7 linked regions of the Homo sapiens genome follow. The protein of the gene in region 3 purifies or fractionates together with the protein of the main gene of each other region. This does not show direct contact. Each region holds a gene or a part of one and is shown on either strand. Other genes may lie near its edges.

Region 1 (3,075 bases), on a different chromosome or scaffold from region 3:
AATGAGATTTCTCCAATGCTACTCAAGTTCACTGGAGGGCACAGCTGCTCCTCAGAAGCCCTCACCCACAGACACATAAGCTACTGCCCTTAGGCTGCTGCCCTGGGGTCTCCAAGCCAAAGTGCTCCTCAGCCCTCCATGGCATCTGCCCCTCTGTCCAATGTCAGGCAGAGGCTCCCAGGGATGGGAAATAGGAGGGGCTCCTAATAGTGACAGTGGCTGAAGAACTCCAGGGTGGTTTTGAGAATGCAATGGCAGCCTTAGCCACTGGAGGAGGACTAACCAGAAAGAGTGAGGAAGAGTCCAGGCCTGGCCTCAGACAGGCCGCAGTGCTCAGCCTTCCTTTTACCCTGATGAGTGTTCTCCCAGTGTCAGGAAGAGGGCAGAACTCTCTGTCAGGTCTTTGAGTCAACTGAATTGAGGAAGGAGGGCTGGACACCAGCCAGAGCCCCCAGGTAAGCGCTGGCATCAGCACGACACAGGACTCAGAGAGCACAGAGTTAACACGCTCCTGCCGAGTCCCAAAGAGTCACGAGTGTGAAAATGCCGAGTGTGGGCACGCAGCCCTAGCCAGAGCCCTGCCTGGTGAGGCTGCTCTTATAATTTGGGAATCTGCTCAATTTTCTAAAAGAAAGCTCTGTTCTACTACACTCAGCATCAAGGGACAGCTCGGCTGTTTATTAAGTCAGTAGAAAAATGACTGTACAGGTTTAAGGTGCAGGAATGAAGATGGGGCAGACTGGGCCCCAGCATCTGAGGCCCCACCCCCATGCCAGAGAGCTCCAGTCCAGAGCCTGAAGTGTGGTCAGCACATGTGAGCTATCTGGATGTCCAGGAATATCTAAGTGTGCTGCCCCCGTAGGAGGCACTGGAATTCCTTGCCCAGCAGCTGGGCCTAAAGAGAAGAGGCTGAGGAAGCCAGGCCCTAGAAACGGCCCAGCACGGTGGCTAACAGAGCCATGCGGATGTACATGCCGTTCTCAGCCTGGCGGAAGTAGGCTGCGCGGGGATCCGAGTCCACTTCCACGCTGCAAAAAAAAAAAAAAAAAAAAAGGAAGTGTTATCGTGCAGCCCATGGATGGCTTGTCCAGGACTAAGTCTCCTCCCGTCCACCAGCCCCGAGGCAGTCTCTGACTCTGATGCTGCACCACCTTATCTCGTTGACACGGGGCATCGGGTGCATCACCACCATCTTCTTCTTGGCCCGGGTCATGATGTGGGGAGTGAGGATGAACTGACCAAAGCACTGCAAAGCAGATGGGGTCCCCATTAGTGCCTTGGGGTAGGAGTGGCTACAGAGGACACAAGTCTGGGCTCCACTGGGGTCCCCTCCACACCCACATGCAGCTATGGCAATTGACAGATGTGAAGTTTAACAGCTCTGACCCAGCCCTCAGCCCAGCCTTTCTGTCCTCATATCTGATGCCCTACGGCAGCAGCCCTGGCTTCTTCCTCAAGCCCAGCACTCACAGCTTCGTACTCCTGGGTAGAGCCAAATCGTTCCTTCTGGATTCGAGTCATGTAGAGCACATCAGTGTCAGGCAGCGCCTCCTCAATGCTCTCGAATTCCTCCTGGAGGGTGAGGAGAGCCATGGTGGATGCAGCGCTGGGCTCTGACTGCCCAACCCACATCTCCATGGCTTCCAGGCAGGGCTGTGAGGGTCTCACCTGCTTGGTGCCGCGGGAGGCCACGAAGGCCCGCACAGTGGGTGGCATGCGCAGGCTGGGAGGTGCCACGTAGCGCAGGCTGACACGATACTGGGTGAGCAGGCAGGCCAGGGAATGTACTGTGCGTCCGTGCTTCAGGTCACCCACCATCGTGATCTAGGAGAGGAATCCAGTCACCACAGGGATCCCAGACTGAGTGCCCCCCGACATCATTTCCAAGCTTTTAAAAGCCTCTGGAGCAGAATGAAGGCCTCCTTGATGCAGCTGTCCTGTACCGGGGTAACCACTTCCTGCCTCCCTCTCTAGATCGTCCCCTGGCAGGGATCCAAACCCTGCCACCACCCTCACCGTCATGCCATTGACAGTTCCCAGCTCCTCACGGATGGTGAAGATGTCCAGCAGGGCCTGGGTGGGGTGCTCTCCGACCCCATCCCCAGCATTGATCACTGGCCTCCGGCAGTGCTTGGCGGCCAGCTGGAAAAAAGGGGAAAATCCTGTCTTTTGCAGCTCAGAGGCCCCCCAACTGCCAGTCCCCCTCTTCTGGGGTCCCCTCACTCATCTGGCCCAAAACACAGAAAACGTGGGCAGAAGGGTTCTCATGCCCCTGGGTCCAGCCTTCTTAACCCCATCTCAGTACCCAGGCTGGCCTCACCTCCACTGCTCCAGGCTGGGGGTGCCGGAGCACGACGACGTCGGCATAGCAGCTCATGGTCTGCACGGAGTCAGCCAGGGATTCGCCCTTCTGGACGGACGATGTGGCTTCCGAGAAGCTGAGCACAGCACCTCCCAGCCGGGCCATGGCTGCTGCAAAGGAGCTGCTGGTCCGTGTGCTCACTTCATAGAACATGGAGGCCATGACCTTCCCCTAGGGAAAGAGCAAGATGGAAGGTGTACGTATGCGTGTCCACCCTGGGGAAACCCCAGCTAGGCACCACCACCCCAACTGACACTTGAGGGGTGCTGTGAGGACCCTTCTGCACCCAAACCTCCCCTGTGACCTGTCAGAGCCTTGACGTTTCCACCACTGGTGTCACTCTGAGCTAAAGGCTCTGCCTCCAGAAAACCACCCATCATTAAGTGTCTGAACGAGCTGGGAAAGGAGGACACACCCTAGCTCTCTCCCATGATTGCAGCAGCCCAGACCAGAAGACCCCACTAGTGGGGCGATGGTCTCATGCTCAGGGCCTCCCCAGCCAGCTAAATCCTGCTTTGGGGAGGGAAAACGTGGGGGAAGATCTACAGCAGCAGAGGGATGGACTAGCATAAGGGGACGGGATGGCAGGGGGAGGAAGACCCACTCTGACCACTGCGCGGCCCTGCGCTGATGCGGCCCAAGGGCAGGCGATGGCCTGGACCCTACCCCCGGCCCTGATCCTGACCTTCAGGATGTCGAGGCTCCGCTCCTTC
Region 2 (3,500 bases), on a different chromosome or scaffold from region 3:
GAAGCCTGGACAGGACCGCCCGATCCGCCACCTCTCCCCCGAGCTCTTCTCCTGGTGTCCGATGCTGGGGTGGGGCCGGGCCTCTGGCCTGGCCCAAGTTAGACTTGATTCTCATGGCCTCATATCCTGCTTTTCTGAGGACTTACACATCTCAAATTCTTTTTAAAAATTTGGGAGTGTTCCCACTTTGCAAGCATCCCGAGTGCGTCCTGGGTGTGACTCTTCTGTGATCTGGCACTTGGCACAGGAAGTAAAAGCGGTAGACATTTTTATAGGGTACAGGTGATCAACCAGCGGGGCTGCAAAATCTCTGGAACCAGCTGCCCACTCTGCACCCAAGGGCCACACCCACCGCTGTCTGGGCAGAAGTGAGAATTCAGGGGAGCATGGAAATCAGAACAGACCCATCTCTGAATGGCCTCGGGCTATGCGGCTCATGAGGGGCACGGAACCTACACCAGTGAAACATCAGGGAATGGAGGGAGGTGGGAACCTTTGCCCACCTTTGCAGCAAGAGCCGTTTCATCTCAATCTCTTCATCAGCCTGGGCACAGAGGGCTGCAGTGGGACGGCCCTGGGTTCTCTGCAGGTTGGCACCGAAGCCAACCCATGGGCTCTGGTGGCGAGTGCTGCGTGACTTGGCTTCAACACTACCCAACACTCTGGAATTCATCAGTTGGGGGTGGAGGTTTCCATTGTAGAAAACAAACCCACCAGGTTTGCCCAGGTGTTAACTATTTACGGTAGAAACAGGCCAGCCAGGCAGTCTCAGGCTGTCTCTGCCATCTGGGGTTCCAGACAGTGAAATGGAGGCAGCAGAGACAGGTGGAGGCTCCCAGAGAGGCAGAATTGACAGGGGAGGGCACCCAGGAAGCCAGAATCACCGGTGGAGGCATCCAGGAAGCCAGAATTGACAGGTGAAGGTGCCCAGGGCCATCTGAAGCACACATGCAGCCTCCAAGTCTCACTCGCCCAGAGTGGACCCAGAAGAGTCACTGGATGGAGCCCCGGGGAGTCTGGGCTTGGGGTCAGGGTCTCCAGGACTCTGCTCCATCATGGGCCTTCTAGTAAGAAGAGTCAGTTCTTCGGACTGGAGGTCTTCCCAGAAAACAAAACATTTCTTTCAGCCTGATGCAGTGGCTCATGCCTGTAATCCCAGCACTTTGGGAGGCTAAGGTGGCAGGATCCCTTGAGCCCAGGACTTCAAGACCAGCCTGAGCAACACAGGGAGACCCTGTCTCTACAGATAGTTTTTAAAATTAGCTGTGGGTGTAGTGGCAGGCACCTGTGGCCCAAGCTACTCGGGAGGCTGAAGTAGGAGGATCGCTTGAGCCCAGGAGGTCGAGGCTGCAGTGAGCCGTGATCGTCCACTGCACTCCAGCCTGGGCAACAGAGCAAGAAACTGTGCCCCCCTACCCCCAAAAAAAGTTTCTTCCTTCCTAACCTGGGATTTATCTTTTTGGAAGATTCCAAAGTCCCAGCAATGGCGTCCAGACACAAGGTTGTGTGATGGTGGGCCGGGGATGCGGGGTGGGGTGAAGACTTGGCCAGAGGGAGGAACATACCCCGACCCTCCGTCCTCACTGCCTCCAGTCTGCCTGCCCTGCAGTGGGGTTGTTAGAATCTGGGTCAGGGGTTCACACATGGCCTGGGCCCACTGCCACCCTCTCCAGATGTATCTCCCCAGCTGGCCAGTGGGCTCTCGTCCCTGCTGTTCCTCCCCACCCAGTGCAAAGGGACAAGGAGCCGGGCCCACGGGGCATGCTGTAGAGATAAGACCTGGGTACACTGAGGAGGGGTAAGGGGCTGGGCCTCGTCAAGAAGCCCTCCTGCCCAACCTGTCGGAATGCCTGGAGCCGGAGCCCACTGCAAGGCAGCTGGTGTCCCCCGCAGAGGCCTCCAGGTGGAGCAGGTCTTTGCTCTGCTCCTGGGTTCCCCCGGGGAGAGGAAGACTGGCCCACCTGCAGGAAGGGAGAGGCTGGGATGCCGATTACAGGCTGGGATCCCTGGCTCTGCCACTCCCCAGCTGCTGACGGGAGGTTGCTGTGCCTCTCCAGGGCTGTTTCTTCATCTGCAAAATGGGGAGGGTGTGGTGGCTCACTGGGCAGGGAGGACCCCGTGAGTTTCGAACAGTCTGTGTGGCTCACACACAGTGTTGAGGAAAACCAGCCCATCCTTATTATCATTCCCAGTCCAAATGCCCTTTCCTCCTCGACCTGCTCCCAGGCCACCCTCCCGGACAGCCGCTCTGGGGGAAGATGAGGACGGGAGGAAAGTGAGAGCAGGACTCAGCACGGGGAAGAGGGAGCAGGACGGGGACTTTGGCAGGCAGTGGGGAGAGCTTATGGGCAGAGTCCAAGCGCCTTTCCTGCAGCCTCTGGCCACCTGGAGCTCGGATGGTGGGGCTGTGCTGAGTCTGACTCCAGAAACCCTCATCCCAGCTGTGCTCAGGGGGGTAGATAACAAGTTCCACTTTCCCTCTCCAGTTCTCTTCTGGGAGGTGGGTACCCCAGGCTTCGGGGGATGACGCCCAGGGGTGAGGGTTGCTCAGGGGCAGGCTGAGGAGGATCACAATTGGGAAAGAATCCTAGCAGACCCCCAGGCAGAAGAGTCAGGAAGGAGTAGACCCTGGTGTTTTGAACTCAGCACTTGTCCGGGCAGTGTGGGAAAGGGGGGCCCGGCGCGGGGAGGCGCCCTGGGAATGTTCCCAAGGGCTCCACCGGTGTCGCTGGGGTTCCCAGGCATACGTTTTGGTGGGAAAAGGGTCGGGGAAGGCAGTGACTAGGTCTCTGTGCCTTTGTTTTAGGCTGGAAGCTAAATCCAGTGGTCGGCGCAGTCTACGGGCCTGAATTCTATGCAGGTAAAAGCTGGGGCGGGGCGGGGATGGGATGAGACCAGCTACTTGGCCCCGTGGGGCTCCGGGGGCTCTGGGGGCGGGGCATGAGGGGCGGGGCCAGGTGGGCCGTCCCCGCCCTCCCGTCGCCGTGTTGACTGAGTAGCGCTCCGGGGGCGGGGCTTGGGGAGGGGTTGGGGGCTAGGTGCGCGGGGGGGCTAGGTGTACGGGGAGGGGGTGCCAGGTGGGTCCCCTTGTGCCTCTCACACGTGTCTCGGGCCCCGTTTCCTGCAGTGACGGGGTTCCCCTACCCCACCACCGGCACAGCCGTTGCCTACCGGGGCGCACATCTTCGGGGCCGGGGCCGGGCCGTGTATAATACATTTCGGGCTGCGCCACCCCCACCCCCCATCCCGACTTACGGAGCGTGAGTACCTGGGCCGGGGGAGGCGTGGAGGAGGGGGTAGGACGGCGGGGAGGAGGGAAATGGGGAGGCCCTGCGCAGTGCGAGGGGCTAGGCAGCCTTTCCAGACCTGGGGGGGGGGAGGATCGTGGGAGCCCCAGAACTCAGCCCTGCAGCTGCCTCCATTATCTTCACCCCTATCCCCACCACGGCGGGCATCGCGGAGGTCACTGGCATTTAGGGGGACATTCAGAGCCCCAGAAC
Region 3 (3,500 bases):
CTGGGTTCACATCATTCTCCTGCCTCAGCCTCCCGGGTAGCTGGGACTACAGACGCGTGCAACCACGCCCAGCTAATTTTTTTGTATTTTTAGTAGAGATGGGGTTTCATCATGTTGACCAGGATGGTCTCAATCTCTTGACCTCGTGATCCGCCCACCTCAGCCTCCCAAAGTGCTGGGATTACAGGAAGGTTTTTTTTTTTTTCTTTTTGAGACACAGTCTTCCTCTGTTGCCCAGGCTGGAGTGCAGTGGTGCAATCTTGGCCCAATGTAACCTCTGCTCCTGGGTTCAAGTGATTCTCCTGCCTCAGCCTCCCTAGTAGCTGTGCCACCACACCCGGGTAATTTTTGTATTTTCAGTAGAGACAGCGTTTCACCATGTTGGCCAGGCTGGTCTCGAACTCCTGGCCTCAAGCAATCCGCCTGCTTCAGCCTCCCAAAGTGCTGGAATTACAGGTGTGAGCCACTGTGCCTGGCCTATTTTTTGTTTTCTTGAGACAGGGTCTCACTCCGTTGCCCAGGCTAGAAGGCAGTGGTATGATCATAGCTCACTGCAGCCTTGATCTCCTTGGCTCAAGTAAATCTCCCGCTTTGGCTTCCTGAGTAGCTGGGACCACAGGCATTAGGCACCACGCCACATGCCAGGCTAATTTAACTAGGTTAACTATGATGAGGTGATGGCTGGGGTCTGCCTGCCCTGAACCTGTGTTCATGTGTCACCTGCTTGTAGAAGGACTTTATAACCTATAATCTGGGCATATATAGGACCATTGACAGCAAAGAAATGGACTGAGGGAAGCAGACCCTGTGGGAGGCAGAACTATGATCCCCAAAGATGACTGCGTCCTGATCCCTGGGACTTGTATACGTCCCACCTTCCATCGGACTCTGCAGATGGGATTAAGTTGAGGGTCTTGAGATGGAGGGCTGCTTTTGGATTATCCAGGTGGGCCCAATGTCACCGTAAGGGTCCCTATCAGAAGGATGGAGGGCCATGGTGGCTCATGCCTGGAATCCCAGCACTTTGAAAGGTCAAGGCAGGAGGATCGCCTGAAGCCAGGAGTTTGAGACCAGCCTGGGCAACATAGTGATACCCCCGTCTCTATTAAAAATTTAAAAAATTGGCCAGGCGCGGTGGCTCACGCCTGTAATCCCAGCACTTTGGGAGGCCGAGACGGGCGGATCACGAGGTCAGGAGATCGACACCATCTTGGCTAACACGGTGAAACCCCGTTTCTACTAAAAATACAAAAAATTAGCCAGGCGTGTTGGCGGGCGCCTGTAGTCCCAGCTACTCGGGAGGCTGAGGCAGGAGAATGGCGTGAACCCAGGAGGCGGAGCTTGCAGTGAGCTGAGATCACGCCACTGCACTCTAGCCTGGGAGACACAGCGAGACTCTGTCTCAAAAAAAAATAAAAAATAAAAAATAAAAAAATTAGCTGGGTGTGGTGTTGCATGCCTGTGGTCCCAGCTATTCAGGAGGCTGGGGTGGGATGACAGTTTGAGCCCAGAAGGTTGAGGCTGCAGTGAGCTATGGTGGCACCACTGCACTCCAGCCTGAGTAACAGAGCGAGACCCTCTTTAAAAAAGAAAAAAAAAAGGAGGAAGGTTAGAGCCAGGGAAAGAGATGCGGGGATGGATGCAGAGATCAGAGAAGAGAAGATGCTTTGCAGCCAGCCCTGAAGACAGAGGAGGGGGCAGCAACAGGAGGAATGAGGAAGCCTCCACGAGCCAGAAAAGGTCAGGAAACAGGTGCCCCGGAGCCTGCAGAAGGAGCTCACCCTACCGGCGTCTTGATTTCAGCCCGGTGAGGCTGACGCTGGACTTCAGACTCCAGAACTGTATGATCATTTATTTAAGCCACTAAGTGTCTTCTATTTATTTATTTTTTGAGATGGAGTTTCGCTCGTCACCCAGGCTGGAGTGCAATGGCGCGATCTCGGCTCACTGCAACCTCTGCCTCCCAGGTTCAAGCGATTCTCCTGCCTCAGCTTCCCTAGTAGCTGGGATTACAGTACTACAGTACTGGGATTACACCCACCACCATGCCCAGCTAATTTTTGTATTTTTAGTAAAGAATGGGGGTTTCACCATGTTGGCTAGGCTGGTCTCCAACTACTGACCTCAGGTGATCCACTCACCTCAGCCTCCCAAAGTGCTGGGATTACAGGCGTGAGCCACCGTGCCTGGCTGCCACTAAGTGTGTTATAGGAGCAACAGGACCCACAGGGTAACTGAAGAGCCAAGGAGGCTGGGAGGGGCCAGGGGCTTGGGAGGTTACAGCTCTCCTGGGCTCCCCCATGGCTTCCCGTGAGGGCCATGATGGGCAGGGCTGAACCACTCACCGTTGATCATCTCAGGTGCCATCCAGTAGGGGTTGCCCACCACGGTGTAGCGCTTCTTGCGGTCTGGCTTCTTGAGGCTCCGCAGGCCCTCAGGCTGAGTCTTCTCGTCCACCATGAGACGCGCCAGCCCGAAGTCAGCCACCACCACATTCTTGTTCTGGGAAGGTGAAGCCGGGTCATGCTGGGACCCGATCCTAGTACTGCCCGCTTGGCCTGCCCCTCCCCAGGACCCCAAGCCAACCTGTAGACAGCCCAGAGAACATACCTCTGATACGCTGTATTGGCACAGGGTGGGGACCCCTTCCTTCCCCAAACCCATCCGCTCTTTGCAAATGGAGCTGCGGGAAGCACCTGAAGATAGCAGTGTGGCTTCCTCCCTCCCACCACACGCTGCACCCTCTGCCCCCTCCCCACCTGCTCCCCAGACCGTCGTGGCGGACCCACTGCTCCCTCCTGCAAGCGCTCCCTCCCACCTGCGGGGGCACTGATGCTGCTTTGTTTCGGAGAGAAGACAGGAATTCTTTTGTTTTTTTTTTCAGACGGAGTCTTGCTCTGTCACCCAGGCTGGAGCGCAGTGGCGCGATCTCGGCTCACTGCAACCTCCGCCTCCCAGGTTCAAGCGATTCTCCTGCCTCACCCTCCCGAGTAGCTGGGATTACAGGCGCCTGCCACCATGCCTGGCTAATTTTTGTATTTTTAGTAAAGACGGGTTTCACCATACTTGGCTAGGCAGGTTTCGAACTCCTGATCTCAGGTGATCCACCCACTGTGGCCTACCAAAGTGCTGGGATTACAGGTGTGAGCCACTGTGCCCATCAAGACAGGAATTTTGATTATAGACCCAGGTCCTGTGCTTGGCATGCCACCAGATTTACTATTTATTTAGGTTGATTGACTGATTGAGATAGGGTCTTGCTATGTTGCCCAGACTGGTCTTCAACTTCTGGCCTCAAGTGGTCCACCTGCCTCAGCCTTTCAAAGTGCTGGGATTACAGGAGTAAGCCACCATACCTGGCCCAATTTTATCTTTTTTTTTTTTTTTTTGAGTTGGAGTCTTGCTCTATTGCCCAGGTTGAAGTGCAGTGGCACGATCTCAGCTCACTGCAAGCTCTGCCTCCCAGGTTCACGCCATTCTCCTGCCTCAGCCTCCCAAGT
Region 4 (3,500 bases), on a different chromosome or scaffold from region 3:
AAATGCAGAAGGAGCACCCTTTGATCACAAAAGCAGCTGCTGCCACCTTTGTTTTGTACCTGGGTTCCTGGTGAAAGTGTCAGCTGTAAAGAAGCTGCAGGCGATGGGAGGGAAATAACCTGGCAGCCTAAGGGTTAAAGGCCTCTTGGGCAAGCCTTCAAAGCCTGCCACTACCTGGCCCCAGCCTTTTTTTCTCACTGCTCCCTGGACGTTTAATTCCAGGCAGCCACCTTTATTCGTAGTTCCCTGAGTGCTTTCCTTCCCAATTCCCTTCACTAGCTCTGTGTAATCGAAGTTAGACCTGAGAGTCAAGGCCCAGCTTGAGTTCCCTACCCCTCCCCAAGGGTTTCCTGATTAACCCAGCCAGACAGCATCTCATACGTCAGAATCTTTGTAGTACGCACTTATTTCTCAACCACTCATGTATTTAGTGGACTAGTTTAGTAGCTGTTGCTGTATACATCTCCACATCCTACCCTCCCAGTTGTACCACCAGAATCTCCTGAAATTGGCATCAGTAGGTACACAATAAAAACTGCTTGAGTGAATGCAATGAGAAATGTTGAAGGAAGAATCTGTGGAATTTGAGTTCTAACTAGTTATTATAGGGCTTGAAGGAGATAGAGGACTCTAAGAAGACCCCAAGGTTTTGAACCAGAGGATGAGGAAAAGAAATACTTTGTCCAAAATTAGGACGAGAGCTGATTTTCAGAGAATGTGATTTTTGAACACGTTGAATTTGCAGGTGATGGATATAATTTTTTTCCTTTTAGTTATTTGGATTTTCCTTCATTTCAGTCTTTATTGTATTGTGTTTTTCCATGTTTGTGATTCCCTAAGAATACCTCTATTCCTTAAGTCAAAGTATTAAAGAACAGTAAAATACAGTTTAGTGAAATATCTGAGGCATTATCAGCAGAAAGGGCATTTTGAGAGCTTGATTGGAACTTAGTCCTGATTGGGATTTTTCTCTCTCCTGCTCCTTCTCATCCTCCCACCCTACCCGCTTCCCCTCACTTCCCTTTGGCTGCTAGTCCAGATTCTCAAGAGGCTTCAACTCCATCAGACAGAGATCTGTTTGTGCATTCTGTGTCAATGATCACATGAATACTCCTTTGACTTCTCAGTGCCCCCACACAAACTGGTGCCTTGCTAAGGAAAGTGTGGGTAGTTAGGAGGTGCTAGTAGGTCCATTTTTAAGAGCAAATCTTGAACGTGTTGGAAAATCTTAGACCCTCCTATAAAGGGAAATGAACTTACACTGATTTTTTCCTTGATACCAGCGAAAATACCGTTAGGAAAATTAACTCTCTGTTAGCTTTCTTCATCCCAGGAGTCCAAGTGCATAATTAATAGTATTTCCAGGTATTACGGGTGTGTTGTTGTTGTTGTTTGTTTGTTTGCTTTTGAGATGGAGTTTTGCTCTGTTGCCCAGGCTGGAGTGCAATGGTGCGATCTCTGCTGACCGTAACCTCTGCCCCCCAGGTTCAAGTGATTCTCCTGCCTCAGCCTCCCGAGTAGCTGGGATCACAAGCATGCATCACCACACACGGCTAATTTTGTATTTTTAGTAGAGATGGGGTTTCTCCATGTTGGTCAGGCAAGTCTCTAAACTTCCGACCTCAGGTGATCTGCCTGCCTTGGCCTCCCAAAGTGCTGAGATTACAGGTGTGAACCACCATGCCAACCCTGGTTATTTTTAATTTTGGATAATTTGCACCATTAAAAGAATTAATCACTTAAAGTTAGTGGCCCATGGTCCATAAACCCAGGAATTTTACTTCTTTCTCATGCCAACCCAATCTCTGTTTATATCACTGTGGTAACACAGAACTTGTTACACTGTGATTGTTTTATTTATTTATTTTAGAAGCAGGGTCCACTCTGTTGCCCCAGCTGGAGTGCAGTGTGACCTCGAAGAACTTCTGGGCTCAAGTGATCCTCTGGCCTCAGCCTCCAGAGTAGCTGAGACTACAGGCCCGTGCCACCACACCTGGCTAATTTTTTTGTAGCGAACAGGGCCTTGTTTTGTTGCCCAAGGTGGTCTCCAACTCCTGACCTCTAGCGATCCTCTAGCCTCAGCCTACTGTGATTGTTTTAAATGTCTTTCTGGGCTAGGCATGGTGGTTCATGCCTGTAATCCCAGCACTTTGGGAGGCTGAGGTGGGAGGATTGCTTGGGCCCAAGAATTCGAAACCAGCCTGTACAGTATAGTGAGACCTTGTCTCTACAAAAATCTTTAAAAATCAGCCCAGCATGGTGGTGTGCCTGTAGTCGCAGCCACTTGGGAGGCTGAGGTAGGAGAATCACTTGAACCCTGGAGGGAGAGGTTACATTGAGCCAAAGATGGCACCACTGCACTCCAGCCTGGGTGACAGAGCAAGACTCTGTCTCAAAAATGAATAAATGAATGAATGTTTGTCTTTCTGCTCCAACAGACTATGGACTTCCCCAAAACTCCCTGCCCATATTTCTATCTTAAGCCCTAACATGGTACCCTATTTATAATATTCAGTAAATGTTGAATGAAAACGAACATATGGCTTTTTTTTTTTTTTTTTTGGGAGATGAAGTCTTGCTCTGTTGCCCAGGCTGGTGTGCAGTGGCGCGATCTTGGCTCACTGCAACTTTAGCCTCCTGGGTTCAAATGACTCTTCTGCCTCAGCCTCCGAAACAGCTAGGATTACAGGCCCATGCCATCATGGACAGCTAATTTTTCTATTTTTTTTTTTTTTTAGTAGAAACAGGGTTTCATCATGTTGGCCAGGCTGGTCTCAAACTCCTAACCTCAAGTAATCCACCTGCCTCGGCCTCCCAAAGTGCAAGGATTACAGGTGTGAGCCACCATGCCTGGCCACCATCTTCCTTACTTTTTTTTACGGTCTTGTAATAGCTTTATTATCTCATTTTTCTCTAATTTTTTCTTTCTTTTCTTTTCTTTTTTTTTTGAGACAGAGTCTCACTCAGTCGCCCAGGTGGGAGTGCAGTGGCTCCGTCTCCACTCACTGCAAGCTCTGCCTCCTGGGATCACACCATTCTCCTACCTCAGCCTCCCAAGTAGCTGGGACTACAGGCGCCCGCCACCACGCCCAGCTAATATTTTTGTATTTTTTTTTAGTAGAGACAGGGTTTCACTGTGTTAACCAGGATGGTCTCAATCTCCTGACCTCGTGATCCGCCCGCCTCGGCCTCCCAAAGTGCTGGGATTACAGGCGTGAACCACCGCGCCCGGCCTCATTTTTCTCTAATTTTTTCTACTTTTATACTTTTTTTTTTTTTTTTTTTTAGATTGAGTTTCACTCTGTAGCCCAGGCTGGAGTGCAATGGCATGATCTCAGCTCATTGCAAACTCTGCCTCCCAGGTTCAGGTGATTCTCCTGCCTCAGCCTTCGGAGTAGCTAGGATTACAGGCATGCGCTACCACACCCGGCTAGTTTTTGTGTTAGTAGAGACAGGTTTTTGCCACGTTGGCCAGACTGGTCTCAAACTCCTGACCTGAG
Region 5 (3,500 bases), on a different chromosome or scaffold from region 3:
GAGGCTGGGTGCGGTGGCTCACGCCTGAATCCCAGCACTTTGGCAGGCGAGGTGGGTGGATCACCTGAGGTTGGGAGTTCGAGACCAGCCTGACCAACATGGAGAAATCCTGTCTCTACTAAAAATACAAAATTAGGCAGGCATGGTGGTGCATGGCTATAATCCCAACTACTTGGGAGGCTAAGGCAGAAGACTCACTTGAAGCCAGGAGACAGAGGTTGCAGTGAGCTGAGATCATGCCATTGCACTCTAGCCTGGGCAACAAGAGTGAAACTCCATCTCAAAAATAAAATACAATAAATAAAATAAAACCAAATTAAATTAAAATAAAATAAAATGTAATGAAAGAAATTCAGATACAGGCTGGGTGCAGTGGCTCATACCTGTAGTCTCAGCACTTTGGGAGGCTGAGGTGTGAGGATCACTTGAGCCCAGGAGTTTGAGAGTAGACTGGGCAACATCGCGAGACTCCATCAATATAAAATAAAATAAAAATTTAAAAAAAATTCAGATACAGTTCTGATATAGTTACATTAAAAACCAGAATTTCAGCACCGTAAGACTGGGCAAAATAAAAAAATACAAACCAGAATTATCATTTAGCTCTCACTAAAGTACTTTATACCATGTTGCTGAAAGCTGGTCATCAGGGGACTGATGAAAAACCAGCAATTAGAGAATAAAAACATCCTTTATAAAGCAACAACAATAGGTGGATAATGCTGCAATAGGACTGTTTTCTCCCCAGGTGCATAGAAATTTTTTAAATGTCTACAATGTTGAAAGATCTGATAAACTTGTACTAAATGATAAAAATCTTAGAGAAACTACTGAATCAGTTACTACAAAACATAATGTTTTCCCTTTTGGGGCAGCGGAGTAATTAGATATTTAAGAATTAGGCAGGGCATGGTGGCTCACGCCTGTAATCCCAGCACTTTGGGAGACTGAGGCAGGTGGATCACCTGAGGTCAGGAGTTCTAGAGCAGCCTGGCCAACATGGTGAAACCCCATCTCTACTAAAATTACAAAAATTAGCTGGGCGTGGTGGTGGGCACCTGTAATCCCAGTTACTTGGGAGGCTGAGGTGAAAGAATCGTTTGAATCCGGAAGGCAGAGGTTGCAGTGAGCTGAGATCGCGCCATTGCACTCCAGCCTGGGTGACAGGGCGAGACACTACAAAAAACTTACATGTCCAAGTGTTGGCCCCCGTGGCATGATTGTAGCTTTGTTGATAGGCATTGCATCTTTTGTGTAATATGCAATAATGGCATGACCAGATTCATGATATGCTGTGATGGTTTTGTTTTTGTTATCAATTTCCACACTTCTTCTTTCAGGCCCTAAGATAAATTTAATTGAGTAAATACTCCATTAGAAAGGTATATTTAAATCAACAAAACACATTCTTGTCTGCAAATCAAATACACTCCACCCTTCCTATCAGCAGATTCTGCATCCATAGATTCAACCAAATAAGGATTAAAACTATGGGGAAGAGGAACAATAAAAAATAATACAAATGAAAAAAATACATTATAACAACTATTTACAGAGCATTTATATTGTATTAGTAATCTAGAGATGATTTGAAGTATACAGGAGAATTATGTAGGTATATGCAAATAGTACACCATTTTATAAAAGACACTTGAGCATCCCTGAATTTTGGTATCCACATGGGTCCTGGAACCAATCCCCACCCCTTCAGTGGATACTGAGAGGTGAATGTATCTGATATGGGATTAATATTATAAAACAAAAAACTCATTCTCCTTAAAGTCATTCTTATTATAGCTCACTCCAACCTTGAACTCTTAGCCTCAAGCAATCCACCCACCTCAGCTTCCCAAAGTGCTGGGATTACAGGCATGTGCCACTGCACCTAGCTTTAGTAATTTTTAGTAATTTTGTTTCTTTTTAAACAGGGTCTGTAACCCAGGCTGGAATACAGTGGCATGATCATGGCTCACTGTAGCTTTAACTTCTTGGACTTAAGTAATCCTCCCACCTAGGACTCCCAAGTAGATGGGACCACAGTCGCATGCCACCCCACCCAACTAATTTTTAAAATTTTTGGTAGAGATGGAGTCTTGCTATGTTGCCCAGCTGATCTTGAACTCCAACGATTCTGGGCTCAAGCAGTCCTCCTGCCTTGGCCTCCCAAAGTGCTGGGATTACAGGTGTGAGCCACCACGCCCAGTCTACAAAGTTTTTTAAAATGGGCAGAATTCATTCCTAACACATACAAACTTTAACAATTTAACTGAAAACCAAAACTGTCAAAACTATCATCTTAATTCAAAAGGGAAAACTTATTTCTATTTCTATAAAATAAACTTCCAGTTTAACAAGAATATCATAATTAATGTGATTTTAAGCCAATCCAAGATTTAAAATCGAAATTAAGCACAGAATAAAGTATCCTTTTTCGCAGCAATGTCTGACAAGAGGAAATGTATACGTGCCTCATCTCCCCACTACCAGTTTAACTATATAATTACATAAGCAACTAGAATATATTTGTTTCGTAAGATGCCAAATTGTGGTGTTGTCAAGTATATATTTTCATGTTCCCATCACTTTTTAAAGCTTTCCAGTCAGAAAAAAAGGTTTTCTAAGAAAGAGACAAAACTAATAAATGTGGTACACTATAAAATCAGTTCTGTATCACTGACAAGATTATTGTCAAGAAAATGTTACAGTTTAATGGCATTTGTTTGATGTTAAGTTGGGAATTTTGTAAAATCATTTATTACAAATCTTGAAAACCCAGACACTGAAGTTTTAGAGTAAGATTAGATTCAACATAGCCATGGCTTTAGCTGTTTGAATAGAGTATTTGCCCCTAAATGAATTATCTAACACAATGAAAAGTAAAAGACAGAAAAAAAAGAAAGGAAACCTACCCATTAGAATTTTGTCTTTGGAAAACTCCAGCTCCTTCATGGTAACCATTTCTTTTCCATCAACAGCTGCTTTTAATGCAGCCTGGTTCACAAGATTCTCCAACTCTGCTCCGGAAAAGCCAACAGTACCTCGAGCTATAATTTCTGGATCAACGGCTAATGTAAAAAGAGAACACAACGCTAATAAGTCTAAAACAGGTAAAAGAAAGCTCTTCACAAAGAACTCACATTCCAACTGGGTGCGTTGGCTCATGCCTGTAATCCCAGCACTTTGGGAGGCTGGGGCAGGCAGATCACCTAAGGACAGGAGTTGGAGACCATCCTGGCCAACATGGTGAAACCCCATCTCTACTAAAAATACAAAAATTAGCTGGGCATGGTGGCATGCACCTGTAATCCCAGCTATTCAGAAGGCTGAGGCAGAAGAATCACTTGAACCCGGGAGGTGGAGGTTGCAGTAAGCCAAGATTGTGCCACTCCACTCCAGCCTAGGCAAAAAGGGCAAAACTCTTGTCTCAAAAAAAAACCAAAAAAAAAAAACACCTCACATTCCAAGGGAAAAAAGAAAATAGCTAGCTATTCTGAGCCATA
Region 6 (3,500 bases), on a different chromosome or scaffold from region 3:
AGAGCAAGACGCTGTCTCAAACAAAAAAAAAGAACATCATACCCTCTCTAAAAATCGTATCTCCTTTTCTTCCTAAAAATTGTTGCTCAAGCCTCACCTGCTTTCACAAGACTGCCGCACACCCTTAAACTCTTTATTAGTATAAAAACACTTTAAAGGCCGGGCACGGTGGCTCATGTCTGTAATCCCAGCACTCCGGGAAGCAGAGGCGGGCAGATCACGAGGTCAAGAGATCGAGACCATCCTGGCCAACATGGTGAAACCCCGTCTCTACTGAAAATACAAAAATTAGCTGGGCATGGTGGTGTGTGCCTCTAGTCCCAGCTACTTGGGAGGCTGAGGCAGGAGAATCACTTGAATCCAGGAGGCGGAGGTTGCAGTGAGCCGAGATCGGGCCACTGCACTCCAGCCTGGCGACGGAGCCAGAGTCCATCTCAAAAAAAATAAAACACTTTACTTCCCCTCTTCCTTTCCAACCCCGATTACGTAAACTAGTGTCTCTCAGCTGCTTTTAGTTATGCAATATATTTGTTATTATACCTGCCACCTGAGTGTTTTACCTGTCTGCTGCTCTGGGTAAAAAAAATGTCTTGACTTTGCTCACTGGGTGTAAATTAATTTTAAATAGTCCATAGCATCTTACATAAGCTCCTTCCTAATAGCACTGAGCAGCATTTTTTTCATCCCCTTAACATAACCCTAATCATTTTAGAGTGAAGAGTATATTAGCTTTGGTGTGAGACATCTGTATTTAAAACTGTCACTCGGCTAGGCGCGGTGGCTCACACCTGCAATCCCAACACTTTGGGAGGCCAAGGCTGGTGGATCACCTGAGCTCAGGAGTTCGAGCCCAGCCTGGCCTACATGGTGAAACCCCCTGTCTCTACTAATACAAAAATTAGCCTACATGCCTGTAATCCCAGCTACTCAGGAGGCTGAGGCAGGAGAACTGCTTGAACCTGGGAGGTGGAGGTTGCTGTGAGCCCAGATTGCGCCACTGCACTACAGCCTGGGTGACAAGAGTGAAATTCTGTCTCCAAAAATAAATAAATAAATAAATTTCTAAAAGTGAAAGGATATATACCTAACTATTAAGAATCACTGTATAAGGCTGGGCACGGTGGCTCACGCATGTAATCGCACCATTTTGGGAGGCCCAAAGTGGGCGGATCACCTGAGGTCGGGAGTTCAAGACCAGCCTGAGAAGCAAGGAGAAACCCCGTCTCTACTAAAAAATACATAATTAGCCAGTTGTCGTGACGCATGCCTGTCATCCCAGCTATTCGGGAGGCTGAGGCAGGAGAATCGCTTGAACCCAGGAGGCAGAGATTGCAGTGAGCCGAGATCGTGCCACTGCACTCCAGCCTGGATAACAACAGTGAAACTCCATCTCAAAAAAACAACCAAAAAAAAACCTGTCAGTTACCATCATTGACTCTTAAAATCTAAAGTTAATTCAAAATAAAAAGTTAAAAAAATAAAAAATTCCTCTGCCACTTGCTACTGTAAGTCATAATATTCAATCTCTCAGACCTCAATTTCTACATCTGAACAATAGGGATTGTACAGCCTACACCAAAAGACTGGTAGGAGGACAAAGCTGCCTCAAACTAGAGCTCCTCAAAAGCAGCATTTTGTTTATTTTTCAACAGGTATTTTACAGGTATTTATAATTTAAAAAGCATAATAAATGTCCCCTCACTCTAAACTTTGGTTCAATGGCTAGCTAGAATGCCATAATTTCTTATTTCTCAATGCTTAAGTGTCATCCACTGATCACTCAGCACAAGCATAAAGCACCACTGCAAACAAAAACAAATCCCATCCCTGCACAAACACAATATATTGAGATTACTATGATCATTCAACCTCTTCCATCTATCTCACATCTCTGTCTTTATTCCCAACTATCCATCTTTTTAATTTACAAATTCATTTACCTATTTCTTTTTTTTTTTTTTTTTTTTGGTTTTTGTTTTGAGACAAGGTCTCACTCTGTTGCCCAGGCTGGAATGCAGTGGCATGATCATGGCTCACTGCAGCCTGGACCTCCTGGGTTCAACTGATCCTCCCACTTTAGCCTCCCAAAAAGCTGAGACCACAGGCATGTGCCACTATGTTGCCCAGGCTGGTCTCTAACTCCTGGACTCAAGCCATCTTCCTGCTTTGGCCTCCTAAAGTGCAGGGATTATAGGTGAGCCCCTGTGCCAGGCCCATTTACTTATTTTTTATTTATTTATTTTTTTGAGACAGTCTTGCTCTGTTGCCAGGCTGGAGTGCAGTGCAGTGGCATGATCTCAGCTCACTGCAACCTCTGCCTCCTGGGTTCAAGCGATTTCCCTGCCTCAGCCTCTCGAGAAGATGGGACTACAGGCACCCACCACTATACCGGGTTAATTTTTTGTATTTTAGTAGACATGGGGTTTCACCAAGTTGGCCAGGATGGTCTCGATCTTCCGACCTCGTGATCCGCCCACCTCAGCCTCCCAAAGTGCTAGCATTACAGGCGTGAGCCACGGCACACAGCCCCATTTACCTATCAAGAAGGTTGAGTGTGCAAATACTAGTAAGCTCTGTGTCAAACGAAGTAAAATTAAAGATGTGAAGTGATGAGTGACTGTAACATTTACTGAGGATGAACTGTTCCCTTCACGAACAGACCAGCCCTAATTCAGGTGCTCAATTCTTTTCCCCTTGACTAATGATTTTCAAATATTTTTTAGCCATGAAACCCGACATATAAAACAGACATAAGCAGAAGCTGCTCTGGCTGAAGTGAAGAGGGAGTAGGTACAGTAGAACCCCACCAGCTCTGCCCTATGAAGCAGCTTAGGGCTCTATGAACCAATGTGAAATATTGTTCTAGATTAGTGGTTCTCAAAGTGTGACCCAAAGACCCCTAAAAGTCCCCAACACTTCTTCCAGGGGTTCAATGAAATCAAAACCATTTTCACAATAAAACTAAGACACTTTGCCCTTTTTCTTTACTGTTCTGACCTCTGTGCTGATGTGCAAAATCAATGGTGTGCAAAAATGCTGGGAACTCAGCATGAATCAAAGCAACAACCCCAAATGGTGCTGAACTAACACTCACTGAATTCTTCACTGTCACCCATTTACAATATAAAAAATTCCACTTTCACTTAAAAGGGTCCTTAATGAAGCAGCAAAAATTATTAGTTGTATTATTTCTCAACACTACAGCACAATTCTTTTTAATTCAGTATTGGGAAATACTCAAAAACTTCTGCTTACTGAAATACAAAGGATATCAAGGGGCAAACCACCTGTAATTACTTTTGAAAGCTAAATGTAGTTGTTTTTCTCATGGAACACCATTTTAATTTTTTTTTTTTTTTGAGACAGAGTCTGGCTCTGTTGCCCAGGCTGGAGTGAAGTGACGCAATCTCGGCTGACTGCAAGCTCTGCCTCCCAGGTTCACGACATTCTCCTGCGTCAGCCTTCCGAGTAACTGGGATTACAGGCGCCCGCCACCACGC
Region 7 (3,500 bases), on a different chromosome or scaffold from region 3:
TGGTTCTAGGGACCCCTGCGGATGCCAAAATCTACAGATATTCAAGTCCCTTTTATAAAATGGTTTAGTATTTGCATGTAATCCATGCACATCCTCCCATATACTTGAAATCATCGCTAGATTACTTGTAATCCCTAATACAATAAAACTGCTATACAAATAATTGTTATACTGTATTATTTTAAAATGTCTTATTCTTTATTATAGTATTTTGTTTTTCTACCATATATTTTCAATTCGCAGTTGGCTGAATCCACTAGTGTGGAACCCACAGATATGGAAGGATGACTGTATGTTTATATTTATTTTTGAGATAGGGTCTTGCTCTGTCATGCTGGCTGGGGTGCAGTGGCTCAAACATGGCTCACTGCAGCTTTGACCTTCCCGGGCTCAAGTGATCTTCCCACCTCAGGCTCCCAAGTAGCTCGGACTACAGGCATGTGCCACCATGCCGGGTTAATTTTTGGTTTTGTTTTACGTAGAGACGGGGTTTCACCATGTTGACCAGGCTGGTCTCAAACTCCTGAGGCTAAAGCAGTCTGCCTGCCTCTGCCTTCCAAAATACTGGGATTACATGTGTGAGGCACTGTGCCTGACCTGTAAATTTAAAAAGCTACTTTTTGGGCTGGGCGTGGTCGCTTACGCCTATAATTCCAGCACTTTGGGAGGCCGAAGTGGGTGGATCACCTAATGTCAGGAGTTTGAGACTAGCCTGGCCAAAATGGAGAAACCCCACCTCTAGTAAAAACACACAAAAAATTAGCTGGGCGCGGTGGTGGGTGTCTGTAGTCCCAGCTACTCGGGAGGCTGAGGCAGGAGAACTGCTTGAATCCGGGAGGCGGAGGCTGCAGTGAGCCGAGAACATGCCATTGCATTCTAGCCTAGGAGACAGAAAAACTCCGTCTCAAAAAATAAAATAAAATAAAATAAAATAATAAAATAAAAAGCTACTCTGTGTGTAATAAGGACAGAGGGTGATTATACATGCAAATTTGCTTATATTTGCAAAAATATGGAACAGGTGAACTAGGAGCCTAAGAAATGTTATCCATGGTCAGGGAGGGGACAGGGAGAGTACAGGAATCATGACCAGACTTCTTCTTTTTTTTTATTTTTATGAGACAGTCTCACTTTGTCACCCAGGTTGGAGTGCAGTGTCGTGATCTCAGCTCACTGCAACCTCCACCTACCTAGTAGCTAGGATTATAGGCGTACGCCACCACACCAGATAATTTTTATATTTTTTCTAGAGATGGGGTTTCCCCACGTTGGCCAGGCTGGTTTCGAACTCCTGGCCTCAAGGGATCCACCTACCTCGGTCTCCTAAAGTGCTGGGATTCCAGGTGTGAGCCACCACACCCAGCCTGCAAAGAAATACTAACCTTTTCTCAGCACTCCAGTTGCAATTGTGCTGTGAGAATGCTCATTCTGAAGCAATTATATGAGTGAGTGTACAGTAGAATAACATCAGTGAATAACGGGTAGAATAAGCAACTAAGAAACGAGGAGCGGAACCAAGCATACCAGCGACGAGATCTAAATATGAAATTCAAAACAGCAAAGATCTGGACTGTTCAACTGAAAGTGACGCTAATTGCTAGGAACTCTTTGCTGCTGCCCCAAGTGTGTACTTCCTAATTTTTCACAGTAAAGGCCTAACAACAATGACCACCCAGCAGCAAAAAGCACCCATGGCACCTGGATTGTGTCTCTAAATACCGCTCCCCACTAACGGCACCTGGAGTCCTGAAGGAGGGGCTGACTGCAGCTCTGGGATGGGAAGTACACAAGGTGAAGGCGGGCATCCCGCTGGGAGAAACGCTGACCCACAGTGCTAGAAGGGCAAGGAGCCAATCAGAAGGGCTCCAATGGCTAAGACAGGACAATTTTTTTTTCTTCTTTTTTTTTAAGATGGAGTCTCGCTCTGTCGCCCAGGCTGGAGTGCAGTGGTACGATCTCAGCTCACCGCAACCTCCGCCTTCCAGGTTCAAGCAATTCTCCTGCCTCAGCCTCCTGAGTAGCTGGGATTACAGGCGTGCACCACCATGCCTGGCAAATTTTTGTATTTTCTGTAGAGATGGGGTTTCACCACGTTGGCCAGGCTGGTCTTGAACTCCTGACCTCAAGTGATCTGCCCACCTCGGCCTCCCAAAGTGCTGGGATTACAGGCTGGAGCCACTGCGCCTGGCCAAGACAGGACAATTTGACTAGGAAAACGAATAATTCATGCAACTGACAAACACATAAAAGTTCACAATGATGCTGGAGAAAAAAAGAGAACCCCTTCCCTACCCCCAAACAAACCCTCAACTCTGGTCAACATTTGGAGTAAGCTCCAACTCTCTATCCTGAAAATTAGTCATCAAAAGGAACAGTTAAGCATTAAACTGCCTTTCTCGTACCATACTTCAAGGTAACAAACTAGTCCTGGAAGATGGAAAGTTCTTCACAGAAGAATTACAGCTCATCAATGTGAAACGAAAGTTAGAAAAGTGAGCCATGGTTTACTGATTGGGAAAATAGAGGTAATATCCACTACTTCAGCAGGTGGAGCCAAGGATTAAAGATAAGAAATGTCACAAATCCAGCTAGACCACATTAAGACCTCAATAAATATTTACTTTTCCTTTCTAACTCGAGTCTGGAAGAATCGCACTGGCCTCCTCCTCACCGCAGGCACTTGCATTCATTTATAACACATTCTCTGAAGGCAGACCCTGCAGGTGGCAAAAAGATTCGACGTGGAGTAAATGGAAACAGAGACCAGGGAGGAACTGAGCTGCACAGTTTTCTTTCTTTCTTTTTTTTTTTTGAGACGGAGCTTCACACTTGTTGCCCAGGCTGGAGTGCAGTGGTGCGATCTCGGCTCACTGCAAACTCTGCCTCCTGGGTTCAAGCGATTCTCCCACCTCAGCCTCCCAAGTGGCTGGGATTACAGGCGTGCACCACCACGCCTGGCTAATTTTGTATTTTTAGTAGAGACAGGATTTCACCATATTGGTCAGGCTGGTCTCGAACTCCTGACCTCAAATGATTCACACACCTTGGCCTCCCAAAGTGCTGGGATTATAGGCGTAAGCCACCACACCCAGGCAGCGCATGTTTTTTTCTTTTTTTTTTGACACGGAGTCTCCCTCTGTCACCCAGGCTGGAGTGCAGTGGCACCATCTCGGCTCACTGCAACCGCCACATCCTGGGTTCAAGCAATTCTTCTGCCTCAGCCTCCCAAGTAGCTGGGACTACAGGTGCGAGCCACCATGCCTGGCTAATTTTTGTATTTTTGGGAGAAACAGGGTGTCACCATATTGGCCAGGCTGGTCTCAAACTCCTGACCTCGTGATCCGCCCGCCTTGGCCTCCCAGAGTGCTGGGATTACAGGCGTGAGCCACTGCGCCCGGCTTTTTTTTTTTTTTTTTTTTTTTTTGGCCAGTGCATAGTTTTCAAAGTTCCAGGGCTGGCAAGGCACAGTGGCTCACATCTGTAATCCCAGCACTTTGGGA

The links.
Region 1: the proteins of LIMK1 (region 3) and CAD purify together in Homo sapiens (affinity purification with mass spectrometry; one large-scale study listed by BioGRID and IntAct). This does not show direct contact.
Region 2: the proteins of LIMK1 (region 3) and RBFOX3 purify together in Homo sapiens (affinity purification with mass spectrometry; one large-scale study listed by BioGRID and IntAct). This does not show direct contact.
Region 4: the proteins of LIMK1 (region 3) and MMS19 purify together in Homo sapiens (affinity purification with mass spectrometry; one large-scale study listed by BioGRID and IntAct). This does not show direct contact.
Region 5: the proteins of LIMK1 (region 3) and YME1L1 purify together in Homo sapiens (affinity purification with mass spectrometry; one large-scale study listed by BioGRID and IntAct). This does not show direct contact.
Region 6: the proteins of LIMK1 (region 3) and NUP98 purify together in Homo sapiens (affinity purification with mass spectrometry; one large-scale study listed by BioGRID and IntAct). This does not show direct contact.
Region 7: the proteins of LIMK1 (region 3) and SLC35E1 purify together in Homo sapiens (affinity purification with mass spectrometry; one large-scale study listed by BioGRID and IntAct). This does not show direct contact.

What each region holds. Positions count from the first base shown.
Region 1 is NC_000002.12:27,241,369-27,244,443, reverse strand, and holds the end of CAD (multifunctional protein CAD), read right to left. Parts: coding exon 3,048-3,075; intron 2,534-3,047; coding exon 2,321-2,533; intron 2,143-2,320; coding exon 2,017-2,142; intron 1,825-2,016; coding exon 1,669-1,824; intron 1,573-1,668; coding exon 1,471-1,572; intron 1,247-1,470; coding exon 1,152-1,246; intron 1,029-1,151; coding exon 926-1,028; 3' UTR 501-925; downstream 1-500. UniProt on the Homo sapiens protein: Multifunctional protein that encodes the first 3 enzymatic activities of the de novo pyrimidine pathway: carbamoylphosphate synthetase (CPSase; EC 6.3.5.5), aspartate transcarbamylase (ATCase; EC 2.1.3.2) and dihydroorotase (DHOase; EC 3.5.2.3).
Region 2 is NC_000017.11:79,097,052-79,100,551, reverse strand, and holds part of RBFOX3 (RNA binding protein fox-1 homolog 3), read left to right. Parts: intron 1-2,785; coding exon of another isoform or gene 2,786-2,806; coding exon 2,807-2,860; intron 2,861-3,127; coding exon 3,128-3,260; intron 3,261-3,500. UniProt on the Homo sapiens protein: Pre-mRNA alternative splicing regulator. Regulates alternative splicing of RBFOX2 to enhance the production of mRNA species that are targeted for nonsense-mediated decay (NMD).
Region 3 is NC_000007.14:74,114,804-74,118,303, reverse strand, and holds part of LIMK1 (LIM domain kinase 1), read right to left. Parts: intron 2,503-3,500; coding exon 2,346-2,502; intron 1-2,345. UniProt on the Homo sapiens protein: Serine/threonine-protein kinase that plays an essential role in the regulation of actin filament dynamics. Acts downstream of several Rho family GTPase signal transduction pathways.
Region 4 is NC_000010.11:97,491,923-97,495,422, reverse strand, and holds part of MMS19 (MMS19 nucleotide excision repair protein homolog), read left to right. Parts: intron 1-3,500. UniProt on the Homo sapiens protein: Key component of the cytosolic iron-sulfur protein assembly (CIA) complex, a multiprotein complex that mediates the incorporation of iron-sulfur cluster into apoproteins specifically involved in DNA metabolism and genomic integrity.
Region 5 is NC_000010.11:27,116,385-27,119,884, forward strand, and holds part of YME1L1 (ATP-dependent zinc metalloprotease YME1L1), read right to left. Parts: intron 3,066-3,500; coding exon 2,910-3,065; intron 1,344-2,909; coding exon 1,192-1,343; intron 1-1,191. UniProt on the Homo sapiens protein: ATP-dependent metalloprotease that catalyzes the degradation of folded and unfolded proteins with a suitable degron sequence in the mitochondrial intermembrane region.
Region 6 is NC_000011.10:3,787,555-3,791,054, forward strand, and holds part of NUP98 (nuclear pore complex protein Nup98-Nup96 isoform 1 precursor), read right to left. Parts: intron 1-3,500. UniProt on the Homo sapiens protein: Plays a role in the nuclear pore complex (NPC) assembly and/or maintenance. NUP98 and NUP96 are involved in the bidirectional transport across the NPC. May anchor NUP153 and TPR to the NPC.
Region 7 is NC_000019.10:16,562,416-16,565,915, forward strand, and holds part of SLC35E1 (solute carrier family 35 member E1), read right to left. Parts: intron 1-3,500. UniProt on the Homo sapiens protein: Putative transporter.